Regions from separate parts of the Homo sapiens genome. Here regions 2 and 3 are each linked to region 1. The links come from fine-mapping of genetic effects on gene expression. A gene starts in region 1. Each other region holds a variant in brackets. All regions are shown on one strand. Distances are between the middles of the regions. Region 1 holds the start of MRPL35 (mitochondrial ribosomal protein L35). Region 2 overlaps REEP1 (receptor accessory protein 1). Region 3 holds the start of LOC284950 (a long non-coding RNA gene).

The links. PIP is the estimated chance that this variant, and not a neighbour inherited with it, causes the effect. A credible set is the group of variants that fine-mapping cannot tell apart.
Region 2: its variant is the best candidate, but not a certain one, in a credible set for the expression of MRPL35 in whole blood (INTERVAL, PIP 0.73).
Region 3: its variant is the best candidate, but not a certain one, in a credible set for the expression of MRPL35 in skin (TwinsUK, PIP 0.85).

What each region holds. Positions count from the first base shown.
Region 1 is chr2:86,197,708-86,201,932 of GRCh38, reverse strand. MRPL35 (mitochondrial ribosomal protein L35) reads right to left here and starts at 2,476. Exons shown (of 4, transcript NM_016622.4): 1 at 2,400-2,476. The coding sequence starts at 2,442. RefSeq lists an enhancer at 2,388-2,657.
Region 2 is chr2:86,228,956-86,233,180 of GRCh38, reverse strand. REEP1 (receptor accessory protein 1) reads left to right here. Exons shown (of 9, transcript NM_001371279.1): 6 at 379-556. Among named protein-coding and RNA genes, the nearest start is that of MRPL35, 32 kb to the right of the region's middle. RefSeq lists an enhancer at 1,811-2,469. The variant A/G (reference allele first, on the strand shown) is at 2,387.
Region 3 is chr2:85,810,956-85,815,180 of GRCh38, reverse strand. It overlaps LOC284950 (a long non-coding RNA gene), which reads right to left and starts at 51. Exons shown (of 3, transcript NR_038888.1): 1 at 1-51. The variant G/A (reference allele first, on the strand shown) is at 2,304.

The DNA of each region.
Region 1 (4,225 bases):
AAGAGACAGAGGGAATAGGACGTACAAAGGTGACGATGTACATTTGGGGAATTACAATGGCCCTATGTGGCATGAATCAAAGGAATGAATGGGGGACATGAACTGCACTGGATGGGAGTGGAGGAGACTGTGACAGTATCGAAACCAGGAGTCTTCAAGATTTCTGATCCTATGTTTCCTAAAAGAATTTTGAAAAACTACCCTTTCACAAATTCTTAATATCTAAAATATCAAATAGTTTAAATTGTTAAAAAGGCTATAATTTCCAGCATATTTAAAATACTGACATTTTAAAATAAGCTGTCACATCACTCTTTAAATTGTTTTCAGTAGAATCTAAATTAATAGTAAGTTGATAACTACCTACATCATCTATTTAAAAATTACAAGAACTATAAATTCAAGTAGATGAAAAACAACTTTTCGTCAAAGGGCACTCCAAAATAATGTAAAAAAGACAAGCCTGAGTGGGAGAAGCTAAAGGACACACACAAATGAAAAACAAAAACAAAACAAAAAATACTCTAAATAAATAAGACAAACAATCCAATAGGAAAATGGGCAAAATATTTAAGTGGATATTTCATAAAGGAAATTCAAAAGGCCAATAAAAATGTGAAACACACTATAGCTTGTTATTAATCAGAGAAATGCTTATTTAAATCTCAATGAGATACCATTACAAAGCCACCAGATTAACAAAAATTTGTAGGTCTGACAATATCTATTGACAATATCAATATCAGGTGTTGGTGAGGATGTGGGGCCTCAACAGTTTGGCAATATCAGGCAATGCTGAATATATACATATTCTCTGACCAGGCAATTCCACAGCGATTTTCACACATACCCACATCCTCAGAAACAATTGGACTCATGCGCCAGGATGAGATCAATCAGCTTTGTACATAATTGCCCCAAACTGGAAATGGAGAATTGTGGCACAGTCATATAATATTATACAGCAGGCCGGGCAGGGTGGCTCACACCCGTAATCCCAGCACTTTGGGAGGTCGAGGCGGGCGGATCACCTGAGGTCAGGAGTTCCAGACTAGCCTGACCAACATGGAGAAACCCCAACTCTACTAAAAATACAAAATTAGCTGGGCGTGGTGGCGCATGCCTGTAATCCCAGCTACTCCAAGGGAATCACTTAAACCTGGGAGGAGGAGGTTGCAGTGAGCCCAGATCGTGCCATTGCACTCCAGCCTGGGCAACAAGAGAGAAACTCCGTCTCAAAAAAAAAAAAAGAATTATATAGCAATGAGAAAGCATTACAGCTACGCAAAATGAATGAATGAATCTCACAATGTAAAAGAAGATACTAAAGCGTATATACTGTATGAACCAATTCATGTGAAGTTCAAAACCAGGCAAAACTATGTTCTTGAGATGCACATATGGATGCTAAAACTACTATAGGAAAAATAGGCAACCTAATAGTAACTATAAAAATGAGAACAGTGTTTATATCTGGGGGGGAAGTAGAGAATTTTGATACATAGGGGAGAGGAGGCTTCTGGTAGTGCACTGTTTTGACCTGAGTGTTAAACAGGTGTTTGCTTTAGAACTGTTAAATCATTCATGCATACTATATAAAATTTTCTTCATATGTATTATATTTCGCGAACACAAAAAATACTCCACATAAAAAAAGCTTTTCTCTAACGGTAAAATTTACATCGCTGCATTTTCTTGACTGATCTCGTATATTCTCCCACAAAATGTTATCCTAACAATATATTTTGTGTGAAAGTAACTTACTGAGCATCCTATGGTATTTGGATGATTTTTAACTTTTTGCAAAAAGTACTTAACGTCACGGCAACTTAATTTAGTCGCCTTTACTTCTGCTATCTCTCAGTCAAGAAGTCCTCATACCAGCCCTTGTGCCGGGGGCTGTAGTTAAAAATTAAATTAGCCTTCAAGCTTACCATGTGTCAGGCACTGCCCAAAACGCTTTACGTGCATTATCTCATTTAATCCCCAGGTAGGTGGTTATGACCCCCATTTTAGAGGTGTAGAATCTTAAGTTAGGAGACATTAATTCTCAAGGTTAAAGGTCGTGAATGGCAGGTCGTAGCCTCTAAATCAGAAAGTTAGGTGAGACTTTTTGGTTTCCCTCGCCCCCTCCGTTCCAGTTTCTCTGGCTTCTTTTCTAGGGAAAAAAAGCTGGTAAGGAAGCGGCAAATGCGTGACACACAGGCCCGCGTGAGTCCGAGTCGGGGGACTTGGTACGGGCTGCCGGTCACACCGCCCCAGAGAAAATTGGGCGCAACCTTCTTAACTTAAATAATGACCCTTTTTGCTTGTTAACCTCCAGTCTAAACGCCCATTCCATCCCGCACCAGTTTCCCCTTCTGTGAAGGCATGCATGGAGTATGTCGCTCTCCACTGACCTGAAGCTGCTCTCACTGCACCAGCAAAGGCAGAGGCAGCCATCTTCACCTTCGCCTACGGCGGCCGCTTTGGGTTTAAAAGCACAAGAGCAAAAGAGAATGAAGGGAAAGCAAGGAGGCGGAGTCAAGGAAGAGGAAAAGAACAAAGTTGTCCACTCAACATTTATTCAATGTCATCTGCCGGGTTCCGTTCTTCGCCGCTGTAAAACGACTGCCTATAGAAGGTTCTACAAAATTTCTTATTAAAAAAAATTCTTGGGGCCGGGCACGGTGGCTCACGCCTGTAATCCCAGCACTTTGGGAGGCCGCGGCGGGCGGATCACAAGGTCAGGAGTTCGAGACCAGCCTGGCCAACATGATGAAACCCCCGTCTGTACTAAAAATACAAAAAGTAGCCGGGCTTGGGAGGCTGAGGCAGGAGAATCGCTTGAAACCGGAAGGCGGAGGTTGCAGTGAGCAGAGATCGTGCCACTGAACTCCAGTCTGGGCGAAAGAGCGAAACTCCATCTCAAAAAAAAAAAAAAAATTCTTGCCGGGCGCGGTGGCTCACGCCTGTAATCCCAGCACTTTGGGCGGCCGAGGCGGGCAGATCACGAGGTCAGGAGATTGAGACCATCCTGGCTAACAGGGTGAAACCCCGTCTCTACTAAGGGGTACAAAAAATTAGCCGGGCGTGGTGGCGCGCGCCTGTAGTTCCAGCTATTCGGGAGGCTGAGGCAGGAGAATCGCTTGAACTTGGGAGGCGGTTGTTGCAGCAAGCCAAGATTGAGCCACCGCACTCCAGCCTGGGGTACAGAGCAAGATATAGGGTGTATTACCTTGGAACACTATTGTTGCCAACTTGATCTCCCACCTATGGTGGCCACTTTGAGTCCAAAAACAGGCACATACGCTAGACAAGTATATTGAAACATTCATAAAAGCTCTTTGAATTGGCAACGGGAGTCATTGCGCACTTTTTTTTTTTTTTGAGACTAGGTCTTGGTCTGTTGCGAAGGCTTGAGTGCAGTGGTGCGATCACAGCTCACTGCAGCCTCGACCTCCTAGGCTCAAGCAATCCTCCCACCTAAGCCTCCTGAGTAGCTGAGACTACAGGCACACACCTGGCTAATTTTTAAATTTTTTGTAGAGACCTAGGTCTCACTATGTTGCCCAGGGTGGTCTCAATTATTTGGTATGGAATCAAACAGGTCTCCCACCTTGGCCTCCCAAAGTGCTGGGATTACAGGTGTGAGCCACTGAGCCTGGCCTCACTGCACATTTTTGAACAAGTGAGTGACTTGATTTAAATTTTGTTTTTTAGAGACAGGGTCTGAGTGCAGTGGTGCAATCACTGCAGCCTGGAATTCCTGAGCTCAAGGGATCCTCCCACCACAGCCTTCCAAGTAGCTGGCACCACAGGCATGCACAATCATCCCCTGCTAATTTAAAAAAATTGTTTATAGAGATGAGGTTTCACTTTTTTTTTTTTTTTTTTTTTTTTTTTTTTTTTTGGAGACAGACTCTCGCTCTGTTGCCCAGGCTGGAGTGCAGTGGTGCGATCTTGGCTCTCTGCAAGCTCCGCCTCCCGGGTTCACACCATTCTCCGCCTCAGCCTCCCAAGTAGCTGGGACTACAGGTGCCTGCCACCACACCCAGCTAATTTTTTGTATTATTATTATTTTTTTTAGTAGAGACGGGGTTTCACCGTGTTAGCCAGGATGGTCTCGATCTCCCGACCTCATGATCCGCCCGCCTCGGCCTCCCAAAGTGCTGGGAGAGGTCTCACTCTTTTGCTCAGGCAGGTCTCAAACTCCTGGGCTCAAGTGATCCTCCCACCTCAGTCT
Region 2 (4,225 bases), 31 kb before region 1:
TTTATTTATGCAAAGCAAGAGAAGCAGCAGGTGGCCTGGAAGGAGTAGGAGCTGCAGGCAGTAGTCACGCCCTTGGCCCTGGGTCTGTCTGAGGCTCCGGATCATCATCGTATCATCGTATCATCATAGTGGTGTCTGAGGGTAGGGAGGGATCCTGGAGCCAAAGGAGCAATTACTGAGCCCCAGAGGAGGCCCTGGAAAATTCCGGGATTTGACCCTCTCTGTGTTTCCAGCAGCTATGTCTGGGCACCTGCGCCTCAGAGTTGATCCAGGTCTTGATTTCCACCTGGCTGACCATCAGAGCTCCCTCTTGGCCTTTGTCGAGTGTGACCTGTGGAGCAGGACCTCTGACGTGTGCCCCTCCTGTGTTGTATCCAGGGACAGGGTGCCTTATCGGAGAGACTGCGGAGCTTCAGCATGCAGGACCTCACCACCATCAGGGGAGACGGCGCCCCTGCTCCCTCGGGCCCCCCACCACCGGGGTCTGGGCGGGCCAGCGGCAAACACGGCCAGCCTAAGATGTCCAGGAGTGCTTCTGAGAGCGCTAGCAGCTCAGGTAGGTGTCACTTTACTTCCCCTCTTTCCCACTCCTTGGGCCTCGCTTTCATTGAGAGAGGCCCAGTCCGCAGTGTGGCATGCAGCCTGGCCCTGGCCCCACGGACCTGCCACCAACGGGGTGTCCATCAGATCATGCCAGGTCAGCCAAGGGGCGGAGCACCCCTCAGGCCCGGCCAGGAAACCAGCCTGGTGACTGATCAGGGACAGGGCTAGGTCACCTGCACCAAAGGGTCCCCTTTCCTCCATATGATTGTCTGGGGAATTGGGGGTAGTTGGGGGCTAGTGTCTAGGCAAAGCCTGGAGGCAGCAGGCACAACTGGACCTGGGCCCCGGGAGCCTTCTGTGTTGTCTTCTCAGACTCCGGGGAGGCATACCTGTTGATACCTAAGTGTTGTCTTCTCACCCGGGGCTTACTGCTCTCACGGGCCCTCTTCCCTGCCTGAATATTGCCTGTCCTCTCTCTCACTCTGCTGTCTCCTTCTCATCTCTGACCTCTCATGTACCTCACACCACCCCCAGCCTCTGCATACCAAGGGCCATGCTAGCTCTGAGTTCTTGTTCCTGTGGTGACCAGGACCTTACAGTAACCACACCTCTGCCTCCAATGTCTGACTCTGGTGTCACACGCCCATCGTGGGATTGCTGGTATTGGGACTGACCTGGGGACCTCGTTAAACATGCAAAGTCCTGGGCCCATCCGCAGAGGCTTCAGTAGGTCTGGGGTGAGACCCAGAAGTGTGATTTTCATTGAGATGCAGCCGTGTTTGGGACCCCCCGACATCGGATCCACCAGCACGGGTTTCAGGCTCATGGAGGGTGGGGGCACACAGTTTCCCAGGCTGCTCCTTGGGAGGATGCCAGGGGCCTTGGGTCTCAGGGGCTGAGCACAGCAGCTGCCCAGGACTGATGGTGGGGGGGTGGGGGACGGTTCTGGATCACCACTTCTGCCTCGCTGTGGTGAGAAGGGTGGGAATCTATGTCCACAATGTCTGTCTGGTGACTGCGTGGCCCTTAAATCTATAAACAGAGATGTCTGGCCACCTGTGACTATGCAGCCTGCAGGGGACACCTTGGCCATAAGCCCCATGTCCTGACAGACCCCATCTGATGCCCGGGGGTCTTAGCCATCAACAGGAAGGCATGAGGCCTGCGGCTGCCTGGGAATGGCAACTCATGCTCAGAGCCAAGTGCAGCTCAGGGCTCCGTCCATTTCCTCCCTCTCAGCAGTGTCCCCTTGGCCCTTCGCAGGTCTTAAGACTGTGGCTTTTCTGTTGGGAGATGTTTTAACCCTGTCACTGCTGGAAGCAGGGCAGGGTTGGGGAGGTGGAGGCTCGGCTGTGGGGGTGATGGCCACCTCAGGGAGGGGTTACCCCCCGAGGGACCCCCCCCCAGGAATGGAATCCCAAAAGGCCAGACAGGAAATGACCTCAGGGATCTTTCAGTCAAACCCAGTGATTTTACTGGTGAAGAGACAGAGGTCCAGAGAAGGGGACTGTGCAGGGTCACCCATGCTGGGCTGCAGTAGAGCGTGGCCTTCTGACTCCGGGGCCAGTGCCCATGGTCACTCACTCATCAACCATCCAGGCTTTGTCAAGCATCTACAGCTTCTGATCTGCCGGACACTGCCCCAGAAATAGGGATACAAAACAGAGTTAAGTCTCATCTCCACACTGCATCAGCTCATCATCTACCAAGCCTCAGATGAAAGCTGCCCCTTAGATGGAAAAGGGGCCTCAATTCAGTAAAACCCAGAGGGCAGAGAGCAAGAACCAGTGGGGTGAAGTTCGAAGGGGGTAGCCACTTGCTCGCCGCATGACCCGGGCGAGCT[A/G]TTTACCATCTCTGCACCCTAGATTTCTTATCTACACAAGGAATGACACCCCTTTGTAGAGTTGTTGTGAGGCTTCAAATGAAACCAGCCATGTGAAAGTGCTTATGGCCATGCCTGGCGCCAGTGCATAGTAGCTGTTATCATTGTTCTTTTTGTAATTTGTCTCTCCTGAGAAGGCGCATTGTCATGCTGCAAGTGTCCAGGAGCAAAATGGGCCATCTTGGGAGGTAGTGAGGTCCCTGACATTGGAAGGACACAAGCCAAAGCTGGATGGTCAGGTTCGAGGGAGGGATTCCTGCTTTGGCTAGGAAGCGGGCTTAGGTGGCCCTGGCGTCCCTTTGCCTCTAAGAGTCTGTGTTGCCATTTTAGAGGTGAGCCCAGTGGAGGAAGCAGGCTCAGAGAGGTTGTGCACTGGGCTGAGGCCCCCAGGCCCAGAATCCAGGCCTCCTGCCTAGACCTCCCCTGGTGAATTATTCAGGGCAGCCTCAGAACTGGGAATGCAAGAAGCTGGCAGGGTCTGCAGGGAGATGGCAGTGTCTTCTGGGCCTGGAGTATCTTCCCAGCCCAGCATCAGGTAGAAAAGCATTTGGGATGATTTGCTTTGGCACTGGCTCTGCCACTCTCCATGAGCAGAGGTGATGACGTCCCCTGCCATGCCCCAGGGAGGCAGTGGGGAGTGTTCTGGCTGTCCCAGGCTGAGAGGACCAGCTGTGCTGCATTATGCCCCAGCCCTCCTCACTGCTGGCCCCCTTGGCCTCCGCACCTATGACCACAGGGGGCAAAGAGGAAAGGTGCAACCCAGCAGGGAGGCCAAGGACAGTGTAGTGCTCTTTCCAGCTGTTCTGGAGCCTAAAATAAAAGCCATCTCAAAAAGGAAGACAGGAGCTGGGTGTAGTGGTTCACGCCTGTAATCCCAGCACTTTGGGAGGCTGAGGAGGGTGGATCACCAGAGGTCGGGAGTTCAAGACCAGCCTGACCAACATGGAGAAACCCCGTCTCTACTAAAAACACAAAATTAGCCAGGCGTGGTGGTGCATGCCTGTAATCCCAGCTACTCATGGAGTAGCTGAGGCAGGAGAATCGCTTGAATCGGGGAGGCGGAGGTTGCAGTGAGATGAGATTGCACCATTGCACTCCAGTCTGGGCAACAAGAGTGAAACTCCATCTTTAAAAAAAAAAAAAAAAAAAAAAAAAAAGGAAGACAGGTGAAAGATGGCCTGGGGCGTGGATATGGGGCAGAATTTCCTGGGTCAGAGGCTCTTGGGCTATCATACCCTGAAGTAAGGTCAACATGCCTAGGAGGAAGTCTGGCAGAGGAAGCCAATTTATACCGGGCTGGTGTACTCTCCCCAGCTCAGCCCCCAGTGTGGGCCTCAGATGCCAGGCCAGATCAGGTAGCAGAAAGGGCCCCAGAAAAGGGGAAGAGGCTAGACTTCATCCTGGCTGGGTGATGCCGGGCCTGTGCAGACACAGCAAATGCAGCACAGCAAGGCATGCTCCTTCCTCCTGAGCCTCAATTCAGCCTCAGAACTTCTCTCAGAACAACCCAGGCAGTCGCTACCATAGATTTGGCCTTGGCACAGAGGACAGACCTGATTCCCTCAGGCTTTCTTCTTTGTAAAAAAGACCGAATAGTCCCTATTCAGCCTATGTCTTAGGGTTGTGAGGAGAGCAAACCAGAGAATTTGCAAACCCTGGACAGGTGGCAGGGGTTGAAGACAACCTGGAGAGAGGTGGGAGCTGCACCTCGTGGAATTCTCTGCAGCTGCTGGAAGCAACAGATTAAGGGTGCACACAGTGGAACTTGAAAGCATGATGCCAGGTGAAGAAAAGTGCAAA
Region 3 (4,225 bases), 390 kb after region 1:
TCAGCCAACCTTTCCTTTCCTGCTTTTATTTTCTAGGATCTGGAGCAATTTAAGGGGATTAGGCTGCGGGTTGGGGAGGGGAGGAAAAGGTTTGAGAAAGGTTTTGAGAGAACTCCATGGCTGGGAGCAGCAGTACCTGCTGAGGTGGGGGCGGGGGAGCAAGACCTCAGATGGCATAGCCAAGCTGTAGGGGGCCTCAGGGGAGCGAGTGGCATGGCCTCAGGCCCAGGCTGCCAAACTGGGCAAGGAGGCAGCACAGACCCCCTGAGGCTTGGACACGAAGCTCTCACAGTGGTGCTGACGCACTGAAGATTTAAACACTACTCCCTCACACCCATTTTCTGGCATCACCTTAGACTCCCTGGCTCTTGCACAGGCCTAGGGAGGAGCAGCACCCACTCCCATCTCCAAAAGCAAGTCAGAATGAAGTTTTCTGCAGCCCAGCCAGAGGCGGAGTCAGATCTAATTTGATTTTAATAGAATAAAGAAGGGTACTGTTTCCAGCATCCCTGAGTCCTGTTATATTTTGCATAAAATGATTCAGTCTGGGGTAGAAGGAAGGGCATTGCAGGATGAGTCTGGCTCTGCCATTTAATAGCTACGGGACCCTGAGCAACTTTCTACACTCCTCCTAGCCTGTCTTCTCATTTGTAAAATGGGAATGAGTTTCCCATCTACCGGGGTCCCTCCTGCTCCTGAGCCCTGGCTGCTTGAAGTGGAGGTTCTGCTCATGCCAGGTGTGAGGATCACCCTCCTCCTGTACCATCGATGCCAGCCCAGCCTGGACAGCAGAGGGCGCTGTCACGCCATGCAGACTGTTCCTGTTCCAAGTCCACCAGCTCTCCCGGCTGTACCCAGCAGCTGATGGTGGCCAGTGTGCATTCTCCCTTATTCACTGGAGCAGTCCAGATGCCCTGACCCTCGATCTGCCAATTTTTAGACACAAGTAACACGCCCCCAAGTTCTCTGGCCCCCTTAGGCTCCTTACTCGTGATCCTCAGCTGCCTTGGCACTGCGCCCTTCTGGAAGCCCCTGGGGTGGCTCACGTGTGGTCCCAAACCAGTCTGCACCCATAGGGCACCACTGCAGCTCTGCCAGATGTCTGGGGTATCCCACATGGCACCCCAGACTCCCAGCAGCCTCCACCTGTATATGCATCCCTCCCCCAAGCGTCAAAGGTGTGAAGTGGTTGGGGCCAGGAATACCCCCACTCTAAGGGGTGGGGAGACTCAACTACGAGTCCTGCAGAGGCCAGACCAGGGGACGCCAGCCTTTCCATCATCAATTCCTCCCTTCTTACTGCTGGGCCAGCTCACTGGGTCATCCTGTCACCCCTCAAGTCTAGCTCCCCACCACAACTGTGACTCCCACTTAAACCAACACTTCAGCTCCCACAGTGTTCCAGGTGCTCTCATACCTCTCCTGTCTCTCAATCCCAAAGTAAAATATACATGATTACCACCATGGGGGAACTGAGGCTCACAGGAATGTTAAGTGATTTGTCCAAGACCTCATGGAACTGCAGTATCAGGACCCACACCCAGATCTCTGGATTCCAAGGGCCATGTTATTTCCATGACACTGTCGTGCCTCTTGGGTGTGGGCACTGGGGGTTTGGGCTGTTTGGGGGAAGTGGGATGGCAGCTCTAGCTGCCCAGCAGAGGTCTGGGAGATCCACTATGTGGTCTCAGGCCTGGCATGGCCCACACTGAGGTTGGCATCATGTGGCTCATGGGCAGGCCTGGAGCCCCTCTGATCCCAGAATGGAAACCCTTTGCAGGCTGCTGGTATAGGGAAGCCCAGCCAGGAGCTCACACACCTGCCGTTACCTGAGGTTTCTGCCATTACCTGAGACAGCATGGGCTCCTGGGAGGCCCTGATGACAGAACAATTAAGGGGGTTGTAGGGGGAAGGGTGGGCAGAGGAGTTACACCCCCACGTGCTTGGCAGCAGACGTCAGGAACACGGGGTGATGCCCACATTGTCTCCTGCCTCCTTATACAAACTGTCTGGGGCTTCTCTTTTTCCTTCATACAAGTCACCAGTGAGGACAATGTCACCAATCACCCAATATTTACCACCAATGAAAATTCGTTTCCACAAATGGGAGACCCTGCTCTGCACAAGAGACTAGACCAGACCTGTAGGGTTTGGGGGATTTTTTGTTTTTGTTTTTTGAGATGGAGGCTTGCTCTGTTGCCCAGGCTGGAGTGCAATGGCATGACCTCGGCTCACTGCAACCTCCGCCTCCCAGTTCAAGCAATTCTCATGCTTCAGCCTCCTGAGTAGCTGGGACTACCGGC[G/A]CATGCCACCATGCCTGGCTAATTTTTGTATTTTTAGTAGAGACGGGGTTTCACCATGTTGGCCATGATGGTCTCGAACTCCTGACCTCAGGTGATCCACCCTCCTCAGCCTCCCAAAGTGCTGGGATTACAGGCATGAGCCACTACGTCTGGCCTCAGATCTGTAGGGTTTTGACGAGTGACCAGAATGAGGGAAACAAACATATCACAGACCAGCGTGGCCCAAGTCGAAGGAAGGGAGGCTGAAGGCACTGGTTGGGGGTGGAAGTGTTGCAGCTCAGAGGAGAAGCCAGCCCCACCGGAGGGGTGGCCAGTGAGTGGCCTGATGCACAGGCAGGCAGCCAGCGAGCTTGGGGGTGGGGGAGAGGCTGAGCCAAGGCCGAGAGGTAGGAGGGGGCAGCTCGGGCTCTTGGTGGGCCAAGGTGGGAAGTGCTTGAGGGCACTTGGCAGAGCTGGAACTGGGACAGTGGGATGAGGCCCAGGTGTGGGGGGCTCGGTGCCAGGCTGAGGATGCCATGGACACACAGCTCATCAGCAGCTCTGGCCACCACCAGCTCCTCCTCTGTTACAGTTCAGAGTGTGGCAAATCATCTGCACTATGAAAATGATGGCCTGGGTTCAACTGTTCATTTGTTCAGTTGACTGGCCGGCCAGTCACCAGCTTTGTGACCTTGGGTAGGTCAATGAATTGACCTAGTTTCTGCCCTTAAAATGGGGTTACAGTATTATCCCATGGGGCTGCTGTGAGGATTAAATGAATTGATTTGTAGGCAGCACTTAGCATGTGCCAGGCTCAACATGATGCTATCACTATTAATCCATATAAATACTAACAGCTACCACTTAGGGAGCACCTACTATGTGCCAGGCTCTGAGCTAGTTCCCCACCTACATCATGTCTTTAACCTCCAAGGTAACTTACCATGATCACGCCCATTTTACAGATGAGGAAATAGAGGCCCTTGCCCACAGTACAGTCATAGTGCTGCCAAGTGGGGAGCCGGGTTCCCACCCAGGCCTGCCTAACTCCCAAGCCCAGGCTCTGAGGATCCAGCATCCGACAGCTGCATCTTTCTGCAGGGGAAGGGGCCTGGGCCATGCAGAGTGTGTGGTTTATGGACCACAGGGATTTCTGAACCCAACTTTGGGCGCATGTGTGCCTGGCACGTGGGGGCAGGAGAAAAGCTTAGTTCCTCCCGCCGAGCCTCAGCTCACACACTCCGCAGACCCTCCTGCGCCCACACCCAGGAATCTTGGTTTTAGGCGACACATCGTGATGCCTGCTAAAAGCAGAGCAGGGAAAAGGAGCCCTTAAACAGTCCAAATGTGTCCCTCGCCGCGCCTGATTTTCCCAGAGCCCCGGCGCGCCCAGACAGAAGTTGTGTACACAGGATTTTAGTATTTCCTCTCCGGCTCCAGCCCCAATTTGAGGGCCTGTAAAAGCTTGAATGGCGTCCAGTGCGGCGTGGTTTGCCTAAGCTCGGCTCCCGGCGCTGAGTCAAAGCAGCCCACACAGGGACCGGGGCGCCTGCTAGGGGGGTGGGGGGCGCCTGCGGGGGCGGGGGGAGGCCGGGGGCGCCCACACCCACGTCCAGGCCCAGCCGCCGCCTTCCAGCCGCCGGGGCTGGCCCTGCTGCGGCTGAGCAAACCTGGTGACTCGGGGTACACTCGTGGCGGGAGGCAAGGACGTGGTTGCATGACCCCTTTCCTCCCCCTGCGCCTGGGAACCTCTCCCACTTCATTGGGGTGGGGGCGGGGGGTGCTCCGTGTGGCTCAGAGGCTGCTTCAGATGTCTTCTCTGAGGCTGAGAGGCTCTTCCAGTCCCTGATTTTTAAACATGCCTCCAGCACCCCTCTCCCTGCCAGGAATCATCCAGTACAGTGCCCAGACTGACCTGCTGTGTGAGTCTAGGTAATTCACTC